4 linked regions of the Homo sapiens genome follow. The protein of the gene in region 1 interacts with the protein of each later gene in a pairwise test. Each region holds a gene or a part of one and is shown in the gene's direction. Other genes may lie near its edges. The genes, in order: MS4A13, RAMP1, ODF4 and HERPUD2.

Region 1 (7,025 bases):
ACCTTTAATTTACAAGTGCTGTTTCAAGAGATATGGATACAGGAGTACACAATGACAACCATAGGGCAGTTTGTCCCTAGATATGTGAAAGGCAAAGAATCTTAACTATAATATCCATTAGCATGATTAACTTGCATGTTTATTATCTTCACTTCAGTCTCCTCACCCAATGAGTCAGTACTCATTTTCTAAATTTTTCATTACTAACACTCTCCTGTGGTTTCTAGATAGCCATTAGGTAGAGGAAAACCTGGAGAGCATGATATCCTGGAAGCCAAGTGAAGAAATTGTTAGAAGAAATGAGGAAGGATCAACTATATTATATTTTGTTGTTTTGTCAAATAAAATGAGGACTACGAATTGACCATTGGATTTAGCAATATGGAAGTCAGTAGTAAATTTTACAAGTAGTTTCAGTGGAATTGTGAAGCAAAAACCTGGTAGGAGTTGATTTAAGAAAAAAATAGGAAGAGAGGAATTACAGACAGCAAACAGGAGCTTCTTTAAGGACTTTACTGTAATGTGGTATAAAGAAATGGGGTGATAGCTGGGGAAACTTGGCTCAAGAGAGGGTTTGCTTATTAGTTTCTGTGAGTTGAAAGAAACAGCATCATATCCTTTGTTGAGAGGACTGAACCAAAAGAAAGAAAATTGATGATATGAGTAAATGGGGGTGGGTATTGGGATCAAGTATTTGTGTAGGCAAGAGGTGATGGATTTTGATGCACAAATAGCTAGGAGCATAGAAAGTTTATCTAGGGCATGGTTCTCAGCTAGAGGCAATTTTGCCCCTGATAACATTTTATAATATCTGGAGATATTTTGGATTTTCACCGCTGGAGATGTACATCAGATGGGCAGGGGCAAAAGATGCTGCTAAATAGCCTGTGATCCACAGGACAGCACCTCACAACAAAGAATTATCCAGTCTAATTATAAATGGTTTCAAAGTACAAAAACAGAAGGGAAAGGCAGAGAAAGGAGAGTTTTCTTTGATAGGATGTTGGAAGCCTGTGGAAGTTTTTTTTTTTTTCCAGTAGCTTCAAATAGCTCAATGAATTAGGAAGCAAGATTATGAGCTGAGATTGAGTATGGGGAAGTGGTTTGGTTGTTTGAGGAAAGGCAAGAGAATATGAAATAATCATCGAGGAAAAGTGAGAGTGCACAGATTATGGAGAGGTGGTTTTATTTTCACACAGCATTAAGGACATACTTGAGGTTTAGGAACAGGATATGAATATGGGTTGTATGCCTTCCTCAGGCCATGTTCAGCTGCATGAGTGCAACCATGCAGTAGGATAAAAACAATCAGGATCTTTGTTTAGCTGTGCAACTATAATAAAACAAGAAAGGTGCAAAGCAATTGCAAGTGGATATAGGGCAGTGTTTGTAATGGTTGGCCATGAAATTTAAGTTAGTGATGGAAAGAAGAATTTAACAGAGAGTTGAAGTTCTCAGATTATAGACCCAGGTGGGGTCAAAGGGTTGTTAGAATTTTAATACTAGAGGGCATGAGCTAGAAAGATAGCAGGTGATGATCAGGTGGAATACTTGAAATTAAGATTTGAAAGGTACAACAAGGACAAGAGAATGATTATGGGAGTGAGTGACTAAGATAGTTTGGAGTCAGGGATTGGAGGAGAGAACAAGAACCACAAGCCCAAGGTATAGAAAGATGATATGGTTTGGCTGTGTGTCCCCACCCAAATCTCATCTTATAGCTCCCATAATTCCCAAGTATTGTGGGAGGGACCTGGTGGAAGATAACTGAATCATGAGGCTGGGGGGGTGGCGAGTCATTCCCATGCTGTTCTCATGATAGTGAATAAGTCTCACAAGATCTAATGGTTTTAAGAAATGGGAGTTTTTCTGCCCCTGGCCCCTCCTAAATTTCATGTCTTCACATTTCAAAACCAATCATGCCTTCCCAACTGTCCCCCAAAGTCTTAACTCATTTCAGCATTAACTCAAAAGTCCACAGTCCAAAGTCTCATCTGAGACAAGGCAAGGTCCTCTCCACCTATGAGCCTGTAAAATCAATAGCAAGTTAGTTACTTCCTAGATACAATGGGGGTACAGGCTTGAGTAAATACAGCTGTTCCAAATGCGAGAAATTGGTTGAAACAAAGGCTACAGGCCCCATGCAAGTCTAAAATCCAGTGGGGCAGTCAAATCTTAAAGCTCAAAAATGATCTCCTTTGACTCCATGTCTCACATCCAGGTTATGCTGATGCAAGAGGTGGGCTCCCATGGCCTTGGGCTGCTCTACCCCTGTGGCTTCACATGGTGTAGCCCTGATCTGGCTGTTTTCACAGGCTGGCGTTGTCTGCAGCTTTTCCAGGCACACGGTGCAAGCTGTCAGAGGATCTACCATTCTGGGGTCTGGAGGATGGTGGCCTTCTTCTCACAGCTCCACCAGGCAGTGCCTCAGTAGGGACTCTGTGTGGCAGCTCCGACCCCACATTTCCCTTCTGCCCTGCCCTAGCAGAGGTTCTCCATGAGGGCCCCGCCCCTGCAGCAAACTTCCGCTGGGCATCCAGGCAGTTCCATATATCCTCTGAAATCTAGGCAGAGGTTCCAAAACCTTAATTCTTGACTTCTGTGTACCCGCAGGCTCAACACCACATGGAAACTGTCAAGGCTTGGGGCTCGCACCCTCTGAGGCCATGGCCCAAGCTCTACATTGGCCCCTTTCAGCCACAGATGAAGCAGCTGGGATTCAGGGCACCAAGTCCCTAGGCTGCACATAGTACAGGGGCCCTGGGCCCGGCCCATGAAACCACTTTTTCCTCCTAGGCTTCAGGGCCTGTGATGGGAGGGGCTGCCATGAAGATCTCAGACATGCCCTGGAGACATTTTCCCCATTGTCTTGAGAATTAACATTCAGCTCCTCATTTCTTATGCAAATTTCTGCAGCTGGCTTAAATTTCTCCTCAGAAAATGGGTTTTTCTTTTCTATCACATTGTCAGGCTGTAAATTTTTTTGAACTTTTATGCTGTGCTTGCCTTATAAAACTGAATGCCTTTAACAGCATCCAAGTCACCTCTTGAAAGGTTTGCTGCTTAGATCATTTCTTCTGCCAGATATCTTAAATCATCTCTCTCAAGTTCAAAGTTCCACAAATCTCTAGGGAAAAATGCCACCAGTCTCTTTGCTAAAACATAACAAGAGTCACCTTGCTCTAATTCCCAACAAATTCCTCATCTTCCATCTGAGACCACCTCAGCCTTGATTTCATTTTTCATATCATTATTGGCATTTTGGTCAAAGCCATCTGACAAGTCTCTAGGGAGTTCCAAACTTTCCCACATTTTCCTGTCTTCTTCTAAGTCCTCCAAACTGTCCTAACATCTGCCTGTTACCCAGTTCCAAAGTCACTTCCAAATTTTTGGGTATCTTTTCAGCAGCACCCCACTCCTGGTGCCAATTTATTGTAATAGTCCATTTTTATGCTGCTAATAAAGACATACCTGAGACTGGGCAATTTACAAAAGATAGAGGTTTGTTGGACTTACAGTTTCTCATGGCTGGGAAGGCCTCACAATTGTGGCAGAAGGCAAGGAGGAGCAAGTCACATCTTACATGAATGGCAGCAGGCAAAGAGAGAGGGCTTGTGCAGGGAAACTCCCATTTTTAAAACCATCAGATCTCATAGGACTTATTCACTATCACAAGAACAGCATGGGAAGGACCCGCTCCCATGATTCAATTATCTCCCACTGGGTCCCGCCCACAACACATGGGAATTATGGAAGCTACAAGATGAGATTTGGGTGGGGACACAGAGCCAAACCATATCAAAAGATCAGACAGATAGATAGATAGATAGATAGATAGATAGATAGATAGATAGATGTATATATATAGATATATACACACATATATATGTATGTGTGTGTTTGTGTGTGTGTGTAAAAATCACCAAATATTAAGTGATGTTGGAGAGAGAATCAGAGAGTCAAAATTTCAATTCATTCGAAAAGAGGAATGGCCAAGGGGTCAATAGATTACTTAAACCATGAAGGATAGTGAGTTATAGAAACTGACATGTGATTCAAAGGTGGAGGAGAAAGAATGGTTGGATAGCAATAATGAGCAAGGAAACCACTTATCCCACACTTCGAACAGATGGAATGAGGGCTGTAGGATACAATATGGCTGCCCATTGAGACAGCAATTAATCACTAGAAGAAACAATGATCTCTAGGAGGTCTCCCACTTTTATACATACACTAATTCATAAGTGTCAATGGATTGCCTTGAAAAAATAGGAGAAAAATATTGAATTTTTGCACAAAATCCAGATAAATGATACATGGTTCATAAAAGATGAATGGCTCATAAATAATGCACTGGTTCATAGGTGATAAATGATAAATGATGCACTGGGTCACAAGTGTCAAAGCACTACCTTAAAAAAGAGGAGAAAAACTGTGGATTTTCCAACAAAATCCAAATAAATGATGCATTTTCCTTAGTGTTTGACCACTCATATTATAAAAATAGTATATTAAACTCCTAGGATAACTTATCTAAAATTTCAACTAAATGTAATTTAATACTAAACTTCTCACTTAAGCCTAAACTTTGAAAGGCATTTTGTAAAACACATAGTAATCGAAAGATAATCTCATTAGAGAGCACTCTAATTCAAAATTCACAAGATATTTTCACTTTAAATTCTGAGCTAGTTCTTACGTTCACTGTGTACCTCCTTAGAAATCTCAGCTTTTGTTGTGGAATGAAGTGCTGAACAAATAGATTTAAAATTATCCATGGGAAGTTTGTAAGCTTCAGGTTTGGGCTTCCTACATATAGTGTATAGCATGACAAAAATAGCCTTTGACTTGGATCTTTAGTGTCTTATCAATAAAACAAATAAGGAATACTTTGAGGAAATTGTGCAACCCATCTTCAAACAATATGGCATAGTTTTATACTTCTTGGAAGTAGACAGACTTCCTGACATGAAATAATGGAACCTCTGTTTTAAAAAACAAAGGCAAAGGCATGAATTTCTGCCATTACCTTAATAATGACTACAATCTCATAAAAGAGACTGCATATTTTGTACCATCACAATATGGAATAGATTCTTGAACCACTTTTTCCATATTTGGATATGTACATAGTAATCATAAGTAGTGTCATCATCTCATTAGGAAGGATAACATTAAAAGCAATAATCAAATGAGTTATATATGATGTATCTCATACACATAAAAGCAAACTTGGTTCCCGGTCAGGACTGCTTAGGCTGTCTGGCATATTATCACAGTGTGAATCTGCCCACTGTCCCCTATGTGTCTCTGTTATGAGTGACTCTACTATTACCTTTCAATGTATTACTACATGATGTAAATTTGTCCTGACCCATCTACTAAAACTTCTGTATATTTTGTTACTATTAGCATTCTTAAAATAATTGACTTACAAGAGAGTTATTAAAAGTACATTCTAAATTGGCAAGCATTATCAATGAGTATTTATAAATATGTTTTTATATCCAGTTTATCATTGCAGGAGTCTTCCTAATAAGAGTAACAAAGTATCCGACTCGATCTGGAGTAAGTTGAAATGTTTGAGGTATCTCTAGAAATCACTTATCACAAAGCTAAATATTAAGTTTTAATGAAAATATAACGTCTAAACAATGAAGGAATCTACCCTACCTGTAAAGTAAATGAAAGAATTAAGAATGAATCTAGAAGAACATAATTTAATATAGACAAATATACTGTATTGGTTAAAATCATGATTACTTTATGTATAGGTTTCTAAATGTATATATAGTTTTTGTTTTGTTTGATGTTCTGCCTTTTAACATTGTGTAAACTTTATAATTAAAAAATTTTAATAGGACCTAATGCCTTTAGATATAGACATTATACTACTGTAAAACTTCATTTTCTGAACTATCCAGTTTGGGAACAAGATTGTGTCCTGTAACAAAGTACAGAATTGGTCCAGATTAAAGATCCATGCATGGTATAGGTGGATAGAATTGGGAAGAACACTTTAGAATCTTAGAGCTAAAACGTACCTTAGAAATTAGTCTGCCCTCATAATTTTACAGATAAAAAAATGATGTCTGAAGATACTGATAGATTTCCTTAGATAATGAAAACCCAGGATTAAAATTTTATCAACTGACTCCTATTTCTACAAGCAGTCATTTTCCACTTTTTTTTTTTTCTTACAGTGGAACCACTTTTGTCCAAATCATATCTTATATGCTTTCTTCCAAATGACCTATAACATTGAAAAACACAATACTTTTTTTTTTTTTTTTTTGAGATGGAGTCTCTCTCTCTCACCCAGGCTGGAGTGCAGTGGCACAATCTCGGCTCACTGCAAGCTCTGCCTCCTGGGTTTACACCATTCTGCCTCAGCCTCCCAAGTAGCTGGGCCTACAGGTGCCCGCCACCAAGCCCGGCTAATTTTTTTGTATTTTTACTAGAGATGGGGTTTCACCGTGTTAGCCAGGATGGTCTCGATCTCCTGACCTCGTGATCCACCCGTCTCGGCCTCCCAAAGTGCTGGGATTACAGGCGTGAGCCACTGCGCCCGGCCCCAAAAAATACAATATGTTTTAGCCTAAATGGAAGATTAATGATTAATGGACTGATGGTGTTAATGTTTCCTCCAGATTAACTGGGCTTCATATAAATCAGAAAAATATTTTCTTAATATTTAATACTTCTAAGACTTCAGAAACTAGATCAAAGTTTTAACTAGATGAGTTTTTTCAGCAATGCAAACTATTACACCAAAATGTTTATTCTGAATATAATAAATTTGCCCTCTGTCTCCTTTTCAGATTATAAGTACTTTAATCATAAACATCATCTGCATAATTACTACAATTACTGCAGTAACTCTAACAATAATAGAGTTGTCTCATTTTAATTCTGTGTCATACAGGAATTATGGACAAGCAGTAAGTGACCAATTCTATGGGAACATATTAATTTTAAAATTATTCTTTTTAATAATTTTGAAATCTTAGGAGGTAAGATGAGGC
Region 2 (7,025 bases), on another chromosome or scaffold:
GTGCCATGTGTAGTGTGAATTCCAGCGGAAATGCTGAGCCCAGAGAGTGAAGCCCCTCGGGCTTGCCTGCCAGTGCCCCTGCCAGTGCCCCCACCCCCAACTCAGGCCTAGAACCCCTCTTTCCTGACGGTCTTTGTGGTATGGTGGGCTGGCCCTCAGTGGTCTCTGAGCCAGGCCTGGCCATCCAGATGGTCCCAGGGAGGAGACTGGCCGCAGGCTGGACAGTCAGTGTTCTGCTGGAACCACGGGGAAAAGCTGCGTCTTTCCTCCAGGCTGGATCTGAGTGGGGCTGCCACAGTCTACCCTGTGAGCCATGGGGGAGTACCTGTCCATGACATAGAGCACTCCTGAAGCCTTTTGAGCCCCTAGATCGAGCTCATGGGGTACACATTTCCATCATGTGACCCATAACGTTTGAGATGGGTGTCTGTCCCTTGCAGGGACGGCAGGCTCAGGGGGCTCCGAGAATGGCGTACCTGGGGGACTGTGGGAATCCTGCCCAAGAGCCTCCTCCTCCACTGGGGACCCAGGGAGGCCTCCTGAAAGAAGAGGTGCTGCAGCCAGGAAGACAGTGGGAGCTGGGAAGGGGACAGGGGAGCCCGGGCTACAGTGGCCCTGGTGGCTCCAGCACTTGCTGGACCATGTGCCCACTGCCCCAGCCCACCAGTTTCTTGGTGGCAAATGAAGAGGCAGAGACGGTGCTGCCAGGGCACTGTTCAGTTCCCAGCCTGCCATACCCCCTGCCTACCTCTGACACATCCCACAGCAGACATATGAAGCCCTGGAGGGATGTCCTTGTCCCCAGTCCTCTCTGCTCCAGAACAGGAGGACTCTCAGCTGGGTGATGTTCCTGGAGGACCTGTTTCTCCTTAGTGAGGAGGATGCGTCAACACGGCCACCATAGGAGGGCTCCCAGCCCAAACAAAATCGTACTCACTTCACCGAATGATGTTATTCTGTTCAGGAAAAATATTTTTTTCCTAAGATGGTTTATTTCAGTAATTTCTGGGGCATCCGAAAGGCATCACTTTAACCATCTTTTAAATCACGGCTTCTGGGTGGCTTTGTTGGAGCAGGGTCCAGGGGGACACACTAGCCAGATGTGGCAGGAGTGCAGGGCTATGGGCCTGAGTCACAGGCCCCCCGACTCTACGTTCTCAGCTCTCTCGGTGACTCCTCCCCGTGCTCCGAGAGTGCTTCACTCCCTCCCATGTGCAGTCACATGGTGGATTCTCTGGGACCGAGAACCAGAATCCCAAAACCCCAGGCCCCGGCTGTCCACTGTGCCCTCCGCCAGGGTCAGCACCACCTCCACCCCTCACGGGGACAACTGCCCAGCCTCCCAGAACCCCCACCCCACCCACCACCCCAGGGACAGGGGGTCTTCCTCTGTGCCCCCAGCAGACCCTCAGGGTACGTTAGTGTCACCCCCACACATGCCATGTTCAGGCCCCCAGGCCTTGGCTCCGGGGAAGCAGCTCCTGAATTAGCTGAGAGTTCTGGGAAACCACGGGGGCAGGAGGGGAGGCAGAGTGACCTGGCCCGTGGCCTGGGCCAGCTCACTCCAGGGGGTGGGGTACAGCTTGCCCAGGAAGCCCTGCCCCCTGTTCTCCCGGACCACGTATCCCCACACGAGTCTCAGGAAGGACTGTCTTGAGTCTGACACCACCTGGGAGGAGAAAAGTCAGTGATTTGCCCAACCATGCGCGTGTTTGCTTCGTAAGGCCTGCCGCTGTCAGGTACCCTGGCCCCAGGCCGGGAGGGGAAGAAGCCTAGAAAGCATTGCCTCTTCAATGGACACTTGGTGACTGACACCCGGGGTGGCTCTCTCTGCAGGGATTTTCTTGCCTCTGGAGGAGACAGTTGTGAGAGGGAAGCGGGGGAGGTGGATGGATGAGGGAATGCCGGGAAAGCGCTGCACCGTTTCTCCTGGAAACACCCATCTGCCACCTCACACACGGGACACACAGGGTCAGGACTCTCACACACGTGGGACACCCAGGGTCAGGACTCGGAGGGGGCAAAGGACAGGGGTGCAGAGCAGCCTGCTACAGTAGGGTGTCCTACACAACCCAGGGCAGCTCCCCCAGAGGATGATCCCACACCAAATGTCCATAGTGCCAGGGTGGGGCAGCCCTGCTGCATGTCAACCATGTAGACATGTGGTGCTACTTAAATGCAGCAGGAAATAAACAGGAGACCACGGAGCACAGCCCTGAGGAGCAGCGGCAGCACAGTCCAGAGGGCAGAGGGCAAGGACGGTTGTGCAAAGGCCCTGCTTTGGAAGTTCCTGGAAGCCTTTTTGACTGAAGCATGGTGGGGAAGAGGGCTTTGAGCCGAAGCTGGTGCTGGAGGAAAGACCCATTCTCTAAGCATTCAGATCTCATTCCTAGGGCAGTGGGAAAACCTTGAAGGACATTAAAGGGGGTGACAGGACAGAAGGTGTGGTTTAAAGGAGCCCTCAGCTGTGGCCCCCAGCATGGGCAGGAGGCCAGGCAAGGATAGGAGTGGGAGGGTTCCAGGGAGTCCTGGAGGCGAAAGTGATGGACTCCAGTCCCTGGGCCTGGATGCAGGAAGTGAGGCAGCGCTGAGGAATGAAGAACAGCACCTGGCAGAGCTCCTGGGGGAGTAGGGAGGGCAGGGCAGGGGAGAAGAGAGGAGAGGAGGGGAGGGGAGAGCAGGGGAGAGGAGAGGAGGGGAGGGCAGGGGAGAAGAGAGGAGGGGAGGGGAGGGCAGGGGAGTAGAGAGGAGAGTGCAGGGGAGGGGAGATGACACCCCAGGCCACAGCCAGGGCTGCCAGGAAACATGGGAGCCCCAGGCAAACTGGAATTTCAGATAAACAAGAAGCATAAGCCTGTCTCATACAGTATCGGGAACATGCCTCAAAAACCACCGTTTCTCTGAGATGCAGATTTCGCAGGGCCTCCTGTCATTTGCTGCACCTGGCAGCCCCGTCCTCAGCAGCCACATGGGGTTCAGCGTTCCCCTTGGATTCTGAGGGGTGATGGTACGTAGACAGGAGTCTATGCAAATCAAGGGTTCAGAAAGAGGTATGGCCAAGAGAGGTGTTTCTGGCGGCAGCAGGGCCTGGCCTATGTCAAATCCTTGCTTGGAGGGGTGACCGGTGAGAGTGGGTAGAAACAGGCCCAGGCTCCTTGTGAGAGGCCAGAGAGGACGGCCAGGGAGGACAGAGAAGGAAACGGGCCCCAGGCACCACTGGGCACCTTGACATGATTGGTGGTGGAGGGAGGCAGATGGCAGGGTCCTTTGCAGGAGAGGCAGCGGCGAAAGCTGCCCTTAGGAGGCAGCGAGGAGGTGAAACCAGAGAGCATGCCTGTGTAGGTTTCCTCCAGTGCCTTATGGTTCTAAACACACAAACCTTTGATGCATCTGGAATTTACCTTAATTTCCTAGCAATTTTTATCAATGGCTCAATATTTGGGGGATTTTCATGGTAATTGCACTGAATGTATTAACTGGTCAGGGAGGATTACATCAAGACCACCGGCTCGAGAAACAGCAGTCTGTTCCTCCACCCCCACGTCTGCATCCAGGCCCTTCCACAGAGATCTCATTTCTCCTGCAGATGACTCATTCAGTGTCTAGGAATCCGGTGCTCTGTGGCCACTACCGAGAGTGGGATATTTTCCCCCATTTTATTTTCTAGCTGGTCATCGCTGGGCTAAGAGGAAGCTCCTCTTCTGTGTGTTTCTTTTGTGACTGTTGTCACCCTGTGCCTGTTTTTTATTTTAGTTTTTTTGCTTCCTGCTTGGTTCTTCAGGCCAGTCATAAGGTCACCCGTAACCTAGGGTGGTCCTACCACCTCTTAACAATTTTCCCTGTTTTGTTCTCCAGTCGTACTGTGTTGGAGAGTGACTCACTGCTGAGTAGGGGAGTGACAGCAGCTGCCTTCCTTTGCTGCTGGCGATGGCAATACAAGTGACCCTTGAACAACGCAGGGGTGGGGCGCCGAACCCCCACATGGTCAGAAATTCGAGTGTAGCTCTTGACTCCCCCAAAGCTTAACGACAGCCTACTATTGAGCAGAGGCCTTACTGATAACATTATCTGTGAGTTAACCCATATTTTGTATGTTACATGTATGTATACTGTATTCTTTTTTTTTTTTCTTTTTTTGAGACTGAGTCTCCCTCTTTTGCCCAGGCTGTAGTACAGTGGTGCGATCTTGGCTCACCACAACCTCCAACTCCCGGGTTCAAGTGTTTCTCCTGCCTCAGCCTCCCCAGTAGCTCAGATTATAGGTGCCCGCTACCATGCCCGGCAAATTTTTGTATTTTTGGTAGAGACGGGGTTTCACTATCTTGGCCAGGCTGGTCTCAAACTCCCAACCTCAAGTGATCCATGCATCTTGGCTTCCCGAAGTGCTGGGATTACAGGCGTGAGCCACTGTGCCCAGCCTATACTGTATTCTTATAATGAAGTAAGCTAGAGAAAAGAAAGTGTTATTAAGAAAATTAGACCCAGCATGGTATCTCACGCCTGTAATCCTTGCATTTTGGGAGGCCAAGGTGGGAGGATCGCTTGAGTCCAGGGGGTGGAGGTTGCAATGAACCAAGATCACACCACTGCAATCCAGCGTGGGCAATAGAGTGAGATCCCATCTCAAAAAAACCCACAGAAAATATATATACTTTTCATTAAGTGTAAGTGGATCATCCTAAGGTCTTCATGTTGAGGAGGCCAAGAAGGAGGAGCAAGAGGAGGGGTTGGTCTTGCTGTCTCAGTGGCGGCAGCGGCAGAAGAAAAGCTTCATGTAGGTGATCCACACAGTTCAGAGCCATGTGGTCAAGAGTTAACACCTTAAACCTTCTGTCTTTCTCCTTTGGGGCCAGATGCTTTTTTATTGTATTTTTGTGGGGGTGGGGGTGGGAGAGGGATGGAGAATGCATCTTCTTCCCGTGTGTAAAGTAAGCTTTTGTCCTGTGAAGGAAGAACCGTTCGATGTGACACAACAACCTGCCCAGCTGGACATTGTCTCAGTGCTGGCAGGCCGCTGGCACTGGCGAGGCTGTGACACAGGAGAAGTGGTCAGAGGCTGCGAACCTACCGTGTTTCTGGGATGAATGGAGCGTTTCCTCATTCCTGTGCAGCCTTTCGGCAGTCTCAGGTGTCTGTTGGCCACTGTTTGTTCTGAGTGTGGCTTCGTTCTTCCTGAGTGAGCTTGCTCTGTACTTTACCTTGGGAGTTTTATTACCAGCATTGGGTTTTCTTCCCAAGATACAGGTTGTGGACCCTTATTCTTTCCCTGTGTGCTAGGATAGTCAGGATGATGGAAATAAGCAGTTCCTTGAAGATCTAGAGGGTCTTCATTTTCACCTGCAAAACCACCGGGGCCAGGCTCCTTTTCATGGTGTAGAAAATTGGCAACCTTTTCAGTATCTTTCTGGTGTTAATTGGTCCCCTTGGGTTTTCTGTCTTTTTTTTTTTTTTTTGGATGGAGTCTTGCTCTGTCGCCCAGGCTGGAGTGCAGTGGAGCGATGTCAGCTCACTGCAACCTCCACCTCCCAAGTTCAAGTGATTCTCCTGCCTCAGTCTCTCAGGTAGCTGGGATTACTGGTGCCTGCCACCATGTCCAGCTAATTTTTGTATTTTTAGTAGAGATAGGGTTTCACCATGTTGGCCAGGCTGCTCTCGAACTCCTGGCCTTCGGTGATCCACCCACCTCAGCCTCTCAAAGTGCTGGGATTACAGGCATGAGCCACTGTGCCTGGCTGGGGTTTTCTGTGTCTTGTAGCAGTGATGTTGTTTTACATTTTCCTCTGAAGTTGTTCATTTTATCCACATATCATTATGTGAACAATTATTTTTCTAATTCCCTCTACATCTGTGAACATCTGTCCTTTTTAGTGCAATTTTGTGAATTTGTATTTTCATGTTATTTCTTGATCAGAATGGACAGTGGTTAATCTGTGATTGGTCTCTTCCCCACTGATTCCCTCCCCCCACCAAAAAAAAAAAACAAAAAAAAAAAAACAGTTCCTGAGTTTACTTACTCTACACTTTTTCTTGAATGCCTAACGCATTTCTTTTTGTTCTTTGCTGGCGTGGGAATGAAACGTCATCGGTTCTCTGCTTGGCAGCTTGGCTGGATCCCCTGAGTTTGCCTCTGCCTTGTGCTCATGGTTGATATTTTCTGGATTCTCTGTATTTGTGGTTTCTGTTTCCTCTTTAGCACGTGAATTGTTTGGAAGCAAGTTTTTACAAATCTCAGGGGCTCCGGCTTTTTGGTTTCTCTCCCGATACTCATTGCTAGTTTTATTGCACTGTGGTCGGGGGCAGAGCGGGAACCACAACCATGACTTAGTGTGCATTGCGGGTTCTTTCTTGGTCTTACAAATTTTTCGTGTTGTAAATGGCCCGTAAGCCCGTGGGAGGAGTGTGGCGTTTTTATGTATCCATCCCGGTCATCATATTAAATTTAATACTTAGGGCCTCCGTATCCCTATTTTCATCTTCTCCATCCATGCGCATTGTGTGAAAACCCTGCACTGCGTTTGTGATCCTGCCTGCTTTCCCTGGGCACGTGTTGCTGCGTGTTCACGCAGGGGAGAGGATGGGGAATTCCATATGTGACCCTGCCAGTCACAGCTGCATGGTGACTTCTTATAGCTCTGTCCCAGTCATTGCTTTTTTAATTTTAATTGCGGTAAAGTATACACCACATAAAATGTACCATCTTACCTATTTTTAAGTGTACAGTTCTATGCCACTAAGCACACTCACGCTGCTGTACAACCATCGCCACTATCCATCCCTAGAAGTTTTTTCATTTTGCAAAACTGAAACTCTGTCCCAGTTAAACACTAACCCCCTGCTGATTTACCACCTCCCCCAGCCCCTGGGACCCACGATTCTACTTTCTGTCTCTGACTACTCTAGGAACCTGTATTAGTGGAATCATACAGCATTTGTGACTGGCTCATTTCACTTAAGGTTCTTCCATGTCGTAGTGTGAATCAGAATTTCCTTCCTTTTGAAGGCCAAATAATATTCCACTGTTATGG
Region 3 (7,715 bases), on another chromosome or scaffold:
TATATAAATATCTTTTGTTGCAGAGCTAGTAATCACTTAGATTACATTTCCTTTCTTGAACTATTTGTAATTACCTTCTGAAAGACAATGTTTGATACATTCACAAGATATTATGAAATCTATGTTAGCTGTAAATGATTATAATATAATAAATACCTGGCCAGGCACAGTGGCTTGTGCGTGTAATCCCAGCACGAGCTGTAATCCCAGGCCAAGGCAGGAAGATCGCTTGAGCCCAGGTGCACCACCACACCTGTAGTCCCAGCTACTTGGGAGGCTGAAGTGGGAGGATTGCTTGAGCTCAGGAGTTCAGCTATGATAGTGTCACTGCACTCCAGCCTAGGTGACAGAGCGAGATTTGTCTCAAAAAAAAAAAAAAAAAAAAAAAAAAAAAAAGAATATGCCTGCACCTATCACCCAACTCAGGAACTAGACTCTTATTAATAATGCATATGTGCTCGTGTAACATTCCTCATCTCACTCCTATGCCTTCTTGAGAAGTAACCATCATATGATATTTCATGTTTACTGTGCCACTGCTTTTTAAAAACTACCATGCAATCATAAGCTTACATAAGCTTAAACAATGCATTGGTTGTTGAGCTTGGTTATAGGCTCTATAAAAATGGCATCATATGTACTGTGTAGTCTTCTGGGGGTTACATTTTTCAGGAAACATTCTATTTCCAAGATTCTTCTGTGTTGTGTGTTGCTGTGAGAAATGCTTATTATTAAAAACCCTTAGAAACTCCAGGAAAAAGCTGGGTGCAGTGGCTGATGCCTGTAATCCCAGCACTTTGGGAGGCCGAGGCGGGTGAATCACGAGGTCAGGAGTTTGAGACCCACCTGGCCAACGTGGTGAAAGCCCGTCTCTACTAAAAATACAAAAAATTAGCTGGGCGTGGTGGCGGGCACCTGTAATCCCAGCTACTTGGGAGGCTGAGGCAGGACAATTGCTTGAACCGGTGGGGGCACAGGTTGCAGTGAGCTGAGATCACACCACTGCACTCCAGCCTGGGGGACAGAGTGAGACTCCGTCTCAAAAAAAAAAAAAAAAAAAAAGAAACTCCAGGAAAAACTTAAAAACTAAAGAGGATTCGAGGGAGGAAGCCCAATCCTGACGACACTGGCTCTGTGTAAATGACATTCCCAGCAGGCCCACCACCCCCTCTCCCAGTGTTCTCCCCTCCTTCTCCCATCTTCAAGATTCTGTCTTCTGGCTGGGTGTGGTGGCTCATGCCTGTAATCCCAGCACTTTGGGAGGCCGAGGCGGGCAGATCACGAGGTCAGGAGATCGAGACCATCCTAGCTAACACGGTGAAACCCCATCTCTACTAAAAATACAAAAAATTAGCCAGGCGTGGTGGTGGGCACCTGTAGTCCCAGCTACTCGGGAGGCTGAGGCAGGAGAATGGCATGAACCCGGGAGGCGGAGCTTGCACCACTGCACTCCAGCCTGGACGACAGAGTGAGACCCTGTCTCAAAAAAAAAAAAAAAAAAGATTCTGTCTTCTGACCCAGTGCCCCAACTGTAGCTGCTTGTTCTAAGGATGACACTCGTCCCTGGCAGGGCCAGAGAATGCTTGGACTTGGGACTGAGAGGTCTCCCCTCCAGCAGCTGGAGGGGTCTGATACACAGCTTGGAGTGTGAGGGCCATGTTTCCCACCATGTGGACCAGAGCAGAGGAAGAGGCTGGTCTGCAGAGACAGAGGAAGACGCCCAGGGAGGGGCAGAGACCACAGCCAGAAGAAGCGCCCTCACAGGCTTTGAATTTCAACTTTCAACCATTCCTGAGGTCCCACTGCACAGGTGACATCAGGATTCATAGTTCACTCTCCTTTTGCTTACAAGGAGAGTTAATTTGGAGAGTTAATCTGTTCCATGATTTGCAGATGCCACTGACTGGCAAGGATGCTTGCCAGGAATTATCTTCTGCATTTTTGCTCTTTCCCTGTTTGCTAGTGAAAGACTGTAAAAACAATTAAAATGATAATTTAACAACATAATTACCAGTTGCTGGGAATTTACTATGAACTAGTGAGTGCTTTTTGATCATTATCTCATTCAGCACTCTTACCAAGTCTATGAGAAAAATATTGTTCCTGTGTTACAGATGAGTAAACTGAGGCATAAGGAAGCTATATGACATCCAGGTTCACAGGGCTATTAAGAGGAAGACCCGGCTGCATGTGGTGGCACACACCTGTAATCCCAAGACTTTGGGAGGCTGAGACAGGTGGATCACCTGAGGTCAGGAGTTTGAGACCGGCCTGACTGACATGGTGAAATCCTGTCTCTACAAAATACAAAACATTAGCTGGGCGTGGTGGCTCATTCCTGTAATCCCAGCTACTTGGGAGGCTGAGGCAGGAGAATTGCTTGAACCCAGGAGGCGGAAGTTGCAGTTAGCTGACCAAGATGGCGCCATTGCACTCTAGCCTGGGCAACAAGAGTGAAATCCCATCTCAAAAAAAAAAAAAAAAAAAGGCGGGGAAGACCCATTTTTCATACCTTTGCCTGTTGGACCCCAAAGCCTATGTTCTTTTTTTTTAGACAGAGACTCCTTCTGGCCTGAGTGATGAAGGAAGACTGTCTCAATAAATAAATACATAAATAAATAAAATTATAACAATCTCAGAAGGCATGACACCTCTAGGACCCATTCTCATCCTACATCCTCCTCTTTCTGGTGCTGAGAAAAAAAAGAAAGGAAAAAGAAAAGTCAAAAGAAGAGGGAAGGAACTGGTGGTGATTGACTAGCAGTGAGTAGAGCTGGGAGGGAGGTGAAGGGTTGGGGAAAGCAATGGGAAGCTCGATGACATCTTTGCAAGACATGTCCAAAGAACAATGGAGGGAGGATCTTTTCCTGGGGATAAGCTCCTGCTCCCTCCCCCTGCTCCATCAGTGAGCATTTGGGGTTGGGGTTAGGGCAGAGGAACTAGGAAGAGAAAAGGGGACTGTCCTAGTCCATTTTGTGTTGCTATAACAGAATACCTGAGGGTGAATAATTTATAAAGAAAAAAGGGCTATTTGGCTCACAATTCTGATGGCCAGAAAGCTCAAGATTGGGCATCTGTTGAGGACGTCAGGCTGCTTTCACTTATGGTGGAGGCAAGGGGGAGCTGGCTTGTGCAGAGATCACAAGGTAAGGGAGGAGCTGAAACTGTGCCCCAAACAGTTAAATAAACCAGTGATTAACAGACATTTTCGAGTTTACAGGATGGCAGCTAAGAAACAGCTTGCTGAAATGCTGAAAAATCCCTTTGCTTATAACAGGACTGGCTGAAATCAGTGGGAACCCGTATGGCTGACAGCAATCCGCACAGAACGAGCTTGCTGATGTCACAGCCTGAATTTCCACCTGCTGTTTCATACTAACGCCACCAAATTTGCACATGCAACCCACGAAGAACCTTGGAGATAACCAGACATGATTAAGGACTTTCTAGACTTCTCCTTTCTTTCCACCAATCACCCGCTAATCCCAGAATCCTCCCCCTAAACCTTTTCTAATAAAAGTACTGCCTTAAGACCAGCAAAGAGAGACAGATTTGAGCTGGATTCCCGTATCCTCGTGGGTCAGCTCACAATAAAGCTTTCCTTTTCTCAAAACCTAGTGCCCTAGTATTGGAGTATTGGCTTCTATGCACATCTGGCAGCGAGCACTTTTGCTTGGTAACAGCGCCAGGTTCTTTTTAACAACCAGCTATTGCGGGGAGCTAATGGAGTGAGGTCTCAGGGAAGGCGTTAATCCAATCACAAGGCATCTGCCCCCATGACCCAAACACCACCCACTAGGCCCTCTCACCTCCCATCACCACCACACTGGGGAGCAAATTTCAGCATGAGGTTTGGTGAAGACAAATTAACCATATGCAGACCACAGGAGGGCCTCTCACATACCATTGCTCATATGTAAAGGGAGGCAGAAGCTGGAGGGAGGTGTCAGATCCACAGTTCTGAGCTGTGGCCTGAGAAACAGGATTTCCGGAAAGAGTTAGAGCTGGAGCCACAGGCCAGGCAAGGTGGCTCACACCTGTAATCCCAGTGCTTTGGGAGGCCAAGTGGGGAGGATCTCATGAGGCCAGGAGTTTTTTTTTTTTTTTTTTGAGGCTGAGTTTCACTCTTGTTGCCCAGGCTGGAGTGCAATGGTGCGATCTCGGCTCACCGCAACCTCCGCCTCCCAGGTTCAAGCAATTCTCCTGCCTCAGCCTCCTGAGTAGCTGGGACTACAGGCATGTGCTACCACGCCCAGCTAATTTTGTATTTTTAGTAGAGATGGGGTTTCTCCATGTTGGTCAAGATGGTCTCGAACTCCCGACCTCAGGTGATCCACCCACCTCGGCCTCCCAAAGTGCAGTGATTACAGGCGTGAGCCACCGTGCCTGGCAGAGGCCAGGAGTTTGAGACCAGGCTGGGTAACATATCAAGACCCCATCTCTACAAACAATTGAAAAATTAGCCAGGCATGCTGGCACAATCCTGTAATCCCAGCTACTCAGGAGGCTGAGGTGGGAGGATCACTTGAACCCAGGAGTTCAAGGTTGCAGTGAGCCAAGGTTGTGCCACTGCATCCCAGCCTGGGCAATAGAGGGAGACCCTGTCTCTCTCTCTAAAAAAAAAAAAAAAAAAAAAAAAAATTGCTGAAGACTTGGCTTCCCTCCCCCATCTCACTGTGCCCCAGGAAAATTCCGTGGCAGTTAGGGGACCTGGCCTGCTGAATGGGTTGGGGCCTTCTCTTGGATCAAGAGTCTCTTATTTGATCGAGGTCTGTTATTAGACTTCCTCATTCTTTCTCAGACCTCAGGCTGCATGGTGGCAGCTGATGAAAATATCCAAAAGATGAGAAGAGACAATTGAGTCTGGTGAGGGAAAGGGGAGACAGAGGGTGAAGTGGTGCTCAAGATGGATGCAGAGTACTCTGGGAATGAGTTCCCCAGGTCAGAAGGAGAAAGAGACCAACATCAGAGACCTGGAAAGGAAAGGAAGAGTGGGGAGGCAGGATGGGGCACAGGTGAGCTGGGACAAGATGGGAGACTGCTGTCCTCCACCCTCTCCCTCAGTAGTAACAGGTCCTTGGGCCAGCGCCAGAACTCTCCGCTGCCCTTTCAATGGAGAATCACACACAGCTTCCGCTGGATGGCCCAGGTGTTGGCCTCTGAGCTCAGCCTGGTTGCCTTTATCCTACTATTGGTCGTGGCCTTCTCCAAGAAATGGCTGGACCTCTCTAGGAGCCTCTTCTACCAGCGCTGGCCCGTGGATGTCAGCAACAGAATCCACACATCAGCCCACGTTATGTCCATGGGGCTCCTGCACTTTTACAAATCCAGGAGCTGTTCTGACTTAGAGAATGGGAAAGGTGAGCCCCTCCACCCCCCATCCCAGCCCAGGCCGCCAGCCTGTCTTGGCCTCTGTATCTGCACCCTGGATGTATTCTTGTTCCCTCTTTCTGGTCATCTTTACTTTTTGGCCTGCAAGATGGTTCCACTGGCACTGAGACCTCCGATGATCGTTTCTCATCCTGTAGCCTGGCTAAATAGATTTGATTGGTGCAATGGAAAATGTCACTGCTTTTGATAAAACCCAGAGCCAAATCTGTGCTTCTAAGAATGCTGTGAGAGAGTTGGGCATGGTGCTGCACACCTGTAGTCTCAGCTATCCAGGAGGCTGAGGTGGGAGGATTGCTTGGGCCCAAGAATTTGAGTCCAGCCTGGGCAATTTAGTGAGACTCCTGTCTCAAAAAAAAAAAAAAAAAAATCAGGCTGGGCACTGCGTCTCACACCTGTAATCCCAGCACTTTGGGAGGCCAAAGCAGGCAGATCACCTAAGGTTGGGAGATCGAGACCATCCTGGCTAACATAGTGAAACCCCGTCTCTACTAAAAATACAAAAAATTAGCCAGGCGTGGTGGCACATGCCCGTAATCCCAGCTACTCTGGAGACTGAGGCAGGAGAATTGCTTGAACCCGGGAGGTGGAGGTTGCGGTGAGCCGAGACCGCACCATTGCACTCCAGCCTGGGCAACAAGAGTAAAACTCTGTCTCAAAAAAAAAAAAAAGTTACGAGGGGCATGGACTCAGCACAAGAGAATCATTCATTAATCGCCTAATTTACCAGGGACAAGAGCCCCAGTGAGATGGGGGTTTCCTTAGTCTTGTGTACCCAGAGCTTTGAGAGGACTCCTTGCAATGTCCCCTCTCAGGCCCTGATCCCACACATTCTCCTTTCCTTCTGCCTCAGGCCTTGCTTTTCTGGATCATTTTCCTTTTTCCACATCTGGCTTCTGTGTTCCTTCTTTCCCTGAATTCTTGCAGCTGCTTCATTCCTCATCCTTGTTTTTTTCTGTTTGTTTCGCTGATTTTTTTAGAGACAAGGTCTCACTCTGTCACCCAGGCTGGAGTACAGTGGTGCAATCATAGCTCACTGCAGCCTCGAACTTCCAGGCTCAAGGGATCCTCCTGCTTTAACTTCCGGAGAAGCTCAGACTACAGGCCGTGGCCACCACACCTGGTTCTTATTGTTGTTAGTCTCTGGTTATGCTGTTCCCTCACCCCTCAGGAATTTGGAGTTCTTTCCCTGCTCCTGGGGAAAACCAGAGCTTTTGACCCTTATTTCCATTTTTTCACTCTCCTTAGCATGAAAAAAATCACACAGCTATTATTTTCTGAAAGTATTATGTCCTTATCATATGAATATGAAAATATTCATATAATGAATTATGAAAGCATTATGAAAATATTATGTCCTTATTATAATAAATTTGGGGAAACAAAAGCTATCCTTTATTGTACACTTACTCCATTTGTTCAATTTAGTCCTTAGTCAATCCTAAGGGATAGGGATAATTATCCCTATTTTAGAGATGAGAAAATTGGGACTCAGAGAGATTAAGTACCTTGCTCAGGGTCATAAAGCTATTTAGATTGAACCAAATGACATGCTAATATTTGACTGCTTTTCACCTACAAAAGGAGAATTTCACATGGATCAACCTAATAATGGCAGGGTTGGAATTGCAACTCAGGTGTGCCTGGCTCTAAAACTCACATAGGCGCCTTGCTCTACGGAGTTACTCAAAGACAGCCAGGCTTTTTATTTTTATTTATTTATTTATTTGAGACAGAGTCTTGCTTTGTTGCCCAGGCTGGAATGCAGTTGCGGTCTCAGGTCACTGCAACCTCTGCCTCCCGGTTTCAAGCGATTATCCTGCCTCAGCCTCCCAAGTAGATGGGATTACAGGCGCCCACCACCATGCCCAGCTAATTTTTGTATTTTTAGTAGAGACGGAGTTTCACCATGTTGGCCAGGCTGGTTTTGAACTCCTGACCTCAGATGATCCGCCTGCCTCGGCCTCCCAAAGTGCCTCGGCTCACGGATTACAGGCGTGAGCCACCGCATCCGGCCAAACATCACTGATTTTTAAAATTTATTTAATTAGGATTAGGTGTGTATAAACAGTGAAAATTCAAAGAATACAAAAGATTGTATACTGAAGTGAGTCTGTTATCTCTTAGTATCCAGTCTCCCTCCCTAGTTTCTCCTGTTTCTTTCCAGAGACACTCTATTCAGAGACAAGCATCTATTTTTATTTTTATTTTGAGACAGTGTCTCACTCCGTCACCCAGGATGGACTGCAGTGGTGTGATTGTAGTTTATTGCACTGCAGCCTCAAACTGCTGGGCCCAAGTGATCCTCCCACCTTGAAGCTCCCAAG
Region 4 (7,025 bases), on another chromosome or scaffold:
CATTCATAGTTTCTAGTAGCTTTGTTTCCCTTTCTCCCCATTTGGTTATCTTTCTTTCTGCTCCTTTTTCTTTGTCATTCTGTTCTTTTCTTTTTAAAAAACTAGCTGACTCATCCTTCATTGTTCTCTGTCCTCCTTTATTCCTTCTTTCCTTTCCCCATCTTATTTGCTGGCTTTATGTCTAAGTATAAATAAATATGCTTATGATCTCACTAAGCTAAAATGCCAACCCTAATCGTTATTTGGAATATTTTTCTTCAGTCATATTTCTAGGTTTATGGAAAAACATGGGATATTTACAGAATATAGTTTAAATGTATGCTTTATATCTGCGTATAGGTGTTATAGATAAAAATAGTTTTTGACTGAAAAAAAGAGTAAAAAAAATCACCTTGCTAAAATTAAGGCAAATGTGATTATGATGAAGTTATTTGAGTTTATTTTATAGTTGCTAAGCCTCAAGTGATGGAAATATGTAAACTGTAAAAAGTTTAAGGTGCTAGATGTTTTCATGCTGAAATTATAGATTGTGCTGTTACAACTTTCACAACATTGTTTGCTTTAAGACTGCTTCGTATGCAAAATAATTTTTTAACCCAGCAATTGCAGAGTATTTAGATCATTTTCCAAGTATGGAGAAAATATTGAATTCAAAAGGATCACAAATAAAATGACAAATTTACCTTCAAATGATAACAATTTATCAGTAATTAAATGGCTAGGCTCGAAAGGGACCTAAGTTTTAGGTATTTCAGTTTAGCTACTGACTTTTTGAACTGTACATTTTGTAGTACTACCCTTTAAATGTAATCTTCTTTAATTTTAGCAAGATGAGTATCATATGGTTCATCTAGTATGTACTTCTCGGACTCCTCCCAGTTCTCCAAAATCCAGCACCAATAGAGAAAGTCATGAAGCATTGGCATCCAGCAGCAATTCTGTGAGTTGTTTTGGGAGGAGTAAACATTGAACTTTTCTTTTTTTTTCGTCGTCGTCTTATTTTTTGCCTCTAAAAACTAAATGAAAAACAGAACAATTGGAGCTTGTGAATTTTGAGATTGTGTTTTGAACTAAAGTTAGGCATTTTGTAAAGTTTACCATTTTGAAAGATCTAATACGCAGTGTTATCCCTTGAAGTCTATTCACCTTGAGTTATAATTTGCTGTATGGCAGGTCAGTAATAGATTTAATCTTCAAAGGTTTAATTACTGGAATACTCAGAAAACGGAATTATGTTACGGTTATATAATATAAACTCTTAGGCCAATGACGTTTCAGAAATATGCCAGGTATTTAAAATAGTATATTTTATTCAAGGTGGATTAAATTGTTTAAAATTTAAGTACCCTAAATCTTCTTGAAGTAGATGACTTGGTCAAGGATTTTGTTTTTTAAAAATGACTGGATTTGGGTGTACATTCCACCTGCTTGGGGAGGAAATACTTAATGTATTAATCTCTTTCAGACTTGGGTATTCATTCCTCCATCCTTATTTTTCCATCTGCCTAAAATTGTTTTGGAAATGTTTTGTAATAGTTGACCTTCTCAATTTAGACATTTTCTACAAATTTCAAAAACATTGTCCCCAATCCTTTTATGTTATTTTTGATTTCCCATAAAAGCTTTCTATGACACCTTTGCAGGTGAGAGGATTGGATGAGTGGAAGCTTGCTTTCAACTTCTTGAGCAGTCAGGGAACTTTTCTACTGCTAAGTATGCTTTCCTTGTCAAGACTCCAGCCAAAGCTTGAAAGAGAGCACAAGTGACAGGGGTGGGAGCTAGTTGAAAACTCTCTCAATAGATACTAGTTAACTGCTTCTTTAAGAAACTAGCTTCTCCAGTTGCTGTATTTAATTTGTATTCTCTTAATGGTAACTATTTCCTAGTACCAGCCATGGGAATTTAGCTTACATTAAACTAAATAAAATATGCCTTGTCAAAACACCCAAGGGTCTTTGTATGTTTCCTGCCTTGGCATGGAAAGGCACAGACATTGGCATTGGCACAGAGTTTTTTTTTGTAGTCGTCGGACACAGTTGCATTGCTTCAATTTTTGTTGGGAAAGAACCCTCTGACTTTGACTTGTCCAGTGGGTTGCTCAGCCATGATTTTGTGTCATTAGTGTGTATATTTGTTTTTTTCAGTGTTATGAAAGCCTGAAAAGTATCAAAGGAATGTTAAGTTGAATTCACCTTAATTTTTCATGGTTCAGAAATTTCAAGGGACTTGAAAATATTTTAAAGATCTAATCATAAAATAATTACCTAATAAGGTCAGAAATCATTAGTTCTAGAGAAATTAGGTTGTGCTGCCAAATGACTAGGCTTTTCTTCTAATAATTGTATTAATGAACACCGTATTATGATGGCCCATTTAATGAGAAATCTTGCTGAAAAAGAAACCTTTCCCAGTTTATGTTCCTAAGAATCCGGACTCCTTAGTAAGATATTTGATATCTATTGTGTGTGAAGTAACATTTTAAAAGTTTTTGTTAGTCTTGCAAAAGACTGGTGTGGACTGTTTTGCAAAAGACAGTTTTGGACCTTTCACATTGCAGGACTTAGCATGGGAGTCATGCAAAAAGACATCCTGTCAATAGGAAGGCAGTACGGGTAAAATACAATTTAACAAAATTGTTAAAGGAAGGATGTTAAAATAATACTGTACCTAGCTTTTTAAAGTGGAAGAACTATAATTTATGTAAAATGTAATTGTGTTTTAAATGTACATGAAACACTTGACAAACTATTTTCAAACAAATTGGGATGGTCTTCAGGGAGTTATATTGTTTATGGTTACTGAATCCATGAGCACGAGAATAAAAAGATTTGAGCATGAGAATAAAAAAATACTGATTAACATCTTGATTCTCGTAGTTCATTTTGTAAAAAAGCAATATTTGTTGGTGATTTCTATAAACTAATAGAATTCTAGAACTGAAAGGAATCTTGAAAATTTAGTCCAATCTCATTTTCTGTAGGAAAGTGGAAACTCTGAGAGGTTAAGTGAACCTTTAAGGTTATAACTCTTGTTAATGTCAGAGATAACACTAGATTTTAGATCTTTTGATTTCTAGGATTTCTAGCCTGTTTCTCATTACTTTAAATCAATATGTTAACAATAGCATGTTGTACAGTACTTGGCACATAGTAACTGTTTAAATGACTCAGTAATTAGTACCATTTATTGAACACTTTCAATAAATGTATGTGTTAGGCATCATGAAAGGAGCTTTGCATGCATTAATTTAATCATGTGAAAAGAGCTTTTTATGCATTAACTTAATCCTCAGAATTTAATATGCTGTTTTTGTATATTATTATTCTGCTCCTCGGCCATTTCTAGTTGAAAAAATGGAATATTTTAGTTTAATTAAGCAGTTTTGATAAGTTTTGACGTACTAAAATTAAAATATCTACTTATACTGGACACACGATGTAAAACAGTAAATTTCTGAAATGTTATTTTGCAGAGGGATTTCATGAATACGTTTTTAGTAATGTGCCTGTAATTTTATGATTGTAAAGAACTAAATCTCCTTTTAAAAATTACATTTTTATTTGTAGAGTTCAGATCATTCAGGATCAACAACTCCATCATCTGGTCAAGAAACCTTGTCTTTAGCTGTGGGTTCTTCCTCAGAAGGATTGAGGCAGCGTACCCTTCCACAAGCACAAACTGACCAAGCACAGAGTCACCAGTTTCCATATGTAATGCAAGGGTAAGTGAAATTGTGGTAGCTATGGAATGTGATTGGGGCCCCCTAAAAATGAATTGCTTTTGAGTTTCACTATAGCCTCTTTGCAGTAATTAAAGTACATTTTAAATTTATTCATATATTTGATTTTGTATTTTGAGAACTAGAGGGTTAAGAAGAGCACTGCTTTTCAAACCTGGCTGCACATGAGAATCATGTAGGGCAGTGCTTTCAATCTTGAATGTTTGTCCTAATCACCGGGAGACCTTGTTGAGCTGCAGGTTTGTATTCAATAGGTATGATGGGGCCTGAGAATCTGCATTTCTGACAAGCTCCCAGATGATGCTAATGCTTCTGATGTTTGGACTACACTTTGAATAGCAAGGATCTACGTAACTAATTTTTTTTTACTCAGTCTCACTATAGATCTACTCAATTTAGTGTTTAGGGGAATGTGGTTGAGTGAAGGTATACTTGAAAGAGTACAGAGCCCAGCAATCTGTTTTTAAAAGTTTTTAAACGTTCCACAAGTGTTTCTAATCAACTTGGTAACAACTGTGCTAGAGTAAAACCATGATGTATTACAGGGATATGCTAATCTTGCTGCATGTTGTCCAGAATCTTTGTTGTATTGAGAGTTTTATAAAGCAGTTTTCTTAAGAAGCTTGCCATAGTCACCCTATATTTAGCAATTACAGCAGGCCCCTTGGGTTAGGCACTTCCAGAGGAAATGCAGCCACAGGTAAAGCAGCTTAGAGAGTAGGATCTTGGAGAACATGGTTTGGACCAGGGTTGTGTGTGAAAGCAGACTGTTTTACTGGGGTATTATTGTTTGTTATTTTTGAGGTAAAGGAAGCTTGAGTAACAGATAGTGATAATTTCTGTGTTGCGTATCAAGCCATGGGGCTGCAGTGTGTGGCACTGGTCTGGATCCATGATGATGGAGCTAGAAATGAGAATATGGCTAGGACCTCAGAATTGTAATGTAGGTGGTGTAACCAAGGAGTAGCTATTGACTGCTGTGCTCAACAGGACGGCATAAACACTCAGGTACTTTTTACTTAGAACTTTAAACTTAATTCAGTTATTAATACAGAAAAACAAAGCTGAATATATAGCAAATAGAAGAGAACTAATTTGTCTCAGATTTCTTAAATGTGAAGCCTTTTCTTTCAAAATAAATGTTTAGATGAGGCTGGTTGTAGACTTTCATAAAGTACCTGTGAAACTATTTTTGTTTTCAGAAAGTGATTACTATTAATATAAACCAAGATTTACTTGTAAAAAGCAGTGTTCTCAGGGTTTATATTATGGAACAGTAGCTTCAAATACTTTGTCTTATGACAGTAATTCACTTCCTTTCTTTTTCACAGAGTAAGTTCCTCTCAGTTTATACAGAGTGATTTTACTTATTTTATTTGGTGGTAGTGGTGGAAGGTGGGAGTATTATAAATAAGCCTGGAAAAATATATAGTGCCACATTAATAGTGGTTATCTCTGGATAAAATTTATAACTCTTTCTCTTACTTACAGTGAATATATTTTGTAATAAACAAATCAAGCTTATAAGATTACAGGTCTTCAGAATAAGACCATAGATACATTGGTAAAAGATTAATAATTTCTCTAAACTAGGCTATTGAGAAAATTAATAAACATAAAAGACAAAAGCATTCAGCTCTTCGAAGTATATTAAGCTGATTAGAAAAATCTGAAATAGGTGGCGCCAAGATGGCCGAATAGGAACAGCTCCAGTCTGCAGCTCCCAGCATGAACGATGCAGAAGATGGGCGATTTCTGCATTTCCAACTGAGGTACCAGGTTCATCTCACTGGGGCTTGCCAGACAAATAGGTGCAGCCCATGGAGCAGGGCGGGGCATCGCCTCACCTGGGAAGCGCAAGGGGTCGGGGAATTCCCTTTACTACAAAAGGGAAGCCGTGAGAGACTGCACCTGGAAAATCGGGATACTCCCACCCTAATACTGCACTTTTCCAATGGCCTTAGCAAACGGCTCACCAGGAGATTATATCCCGCGCCTGGCTCAGAGGGTCCCATGCCCAAGGAGCCCTGCTCATTGCTAGCACAGCAGTCTGAGATCAAACTGCAAGGCGACAGCAAGGCTGAGGGAGGGGCATCTGCCATTGCCGAGGCTCGAGTACATAAACAAAGTGGCCAGGAAGCTCGAACTGGGTGGAGCCCACCTCAGCTCAAGGAGGCCTCCCTGCCTCTGTAGACTCCACCTCTAGGGGCAGGGCATAGCTGAACAGAAGGCAGCAGAAACTTCTGCAGACTTAAATGTCCCTGTGTGACAGCTTTGAAGAGAGTAGTGGTTCTCCCAGCACTGAGTTTGAGATCTGAGAACAGACAGACTGCCTCCTCAAGTGGGTCCCTGACCCCCGAGTAGCCTAACTGGGAGGCATCTCCCAGTAGGGGGGCGACTGGCACTTCATAAGGCTGGGTGCCCCTCTGAGATGAAGCTTCCAGAGGAAGGATTAGGCAGCAACATGAGCTCCTTGCCAGCAGCGGAACAAAGCTGTATGGAGAATGACTTTGACGAGTCGAGAGAAGGCGGCTTCAGACAATCGGTAATAACAAACTTCTCCCAGCTAAAGGAGGATGTTTGAACCCATCACAAAGAAGCTTAAAAACCTTGAAAAAAGAGTAGACAAATGGCTAACGAGAATAAACAGCATAGATAAGTCCATAAATGACCTGATGGAGCTGAAAACCATGGCACAAGAACTACGTGATGCATGCACAAGCTTCAGTAGCTGATTTGATTAAATGGAAGAAAGGGTATCAGTGATTGAAGATCAAATGAATGAAATGAAGTGAGAAGAGAAGTTTAGAGAAAAAAGAGTAAAAAGAAATGAACAAAGCCTCCAAGAAATATGGGACTATGTGAGAAGACCAAATCTACATCTGATTGGTGTACCTGAAAGTGATGGGGAGAATGCAACCAAGTTGGAAAGCACTCTTCAGGATATCATCCAGGAGAACTTCCCCAACCTAGTGAGGCAGGCCAACATTCAAATTCAGGAAATACAGAGAACACCACAAAGATACTCCTCGAGAATAGCAATTCCAAGACACATAATTGTCAGATTCACCAAAGTTGAAATGAAGAAAAAAATGTTAAGGGCAGCCAGAGAGAAAGGTCTCATTACCCACAAAGGGAAACCCATCAGACTAATAGCTGATCTCTCGGCAGAAACTCTACAAGCCAGAAGAGAGTGGGGGCCAATATTCAATATTCTTAAAAGAATTTTCAACCCAGAATTTCATATTCAGCCAAACTCAGCTTCATAAGTGACGGAGAAATAAAA

Evidence for each region.
Region 2: the proteins of MS4A13 (region 1) and RAMP1 interact in binary tests that used the Homo sapiens proteins (3 or more experiments, as listed by UniProt).
Region 3: the proteins of MS4A13 (region 1) and ODF4 interact in binary tests that used the Homo sapiens proteins (3 or more experiments, as listed by UniProt).
Region 4: the proteins of MS4A13 (region 1) and HERPUD2 interact in binary tests that used the Homo sapiens proteins (3 or more experiments, as listed by UniProt).

The regions. Positions count from the first base shown.
Region 1 is NC_000011.10:60,518,386-60,525,410, forward strand, and holds part of MS4A13 (membrane-spanning 4-domains subfamily A member 13), read left to right. Parts: intron 1-5,511; coding exon 5,512-5,568; intron 5,569-6,821; coding exon 6,822-6,941; intron 6,942-7,025. UniProt on the Homo sapiens protein: May be involved in signal transduction as a component of a multimeric receptor complex.
Region 2 is NC_000002.12:237,862,610-237,869,634, forward strand, and holds part of RAMP1 (receptor activity-modifying protein 1 isoform 1 precursor), read left to right. Parts: intron 1-7,025. UniProt on the Homo sapiens protein: Accessory protein that interacts with and modulates the function of G-protein coupled receptors including calcitonin gene-related peptide type 1 receptor (CALCRL) and calcitonin receptor (CALCR). Required for the transport of CALCRL to the plasma membrane.
Region 3 is NC_000017.11:8,335,146-8,342,860, forward strand, and holds the start of ODF4 (outer dense fiber protein 4), read left to right. Parts: upstream 1-4,694; 5' UTR 4,695-4,906; coding exon 4,907-5,360; intron 5,361-7,715. UniProt on the Homo sapiens protein: Component of the outer dense fibers (ODF) of spermatozoa which could be involved in sperm tail structure, sperm movement and general organization of cellular cytoskeleton.
Region 4 is NC_000007.14:35,664,130-35,671,154, reverse strand, and holds part of HERPUD2 (homocysteine-responsive endoplasmic reticulum-resident ubiquitin-like domain member 2 protein), read left to right. Parts: intron 1-826; coding exon 827-940; intron 941-3,566; coding exon 3,567-3,721; intron 3,722-7,025. UniProt on the Homo sapiens protein: Could be involved in the unfolded protein response (UPR) pathway.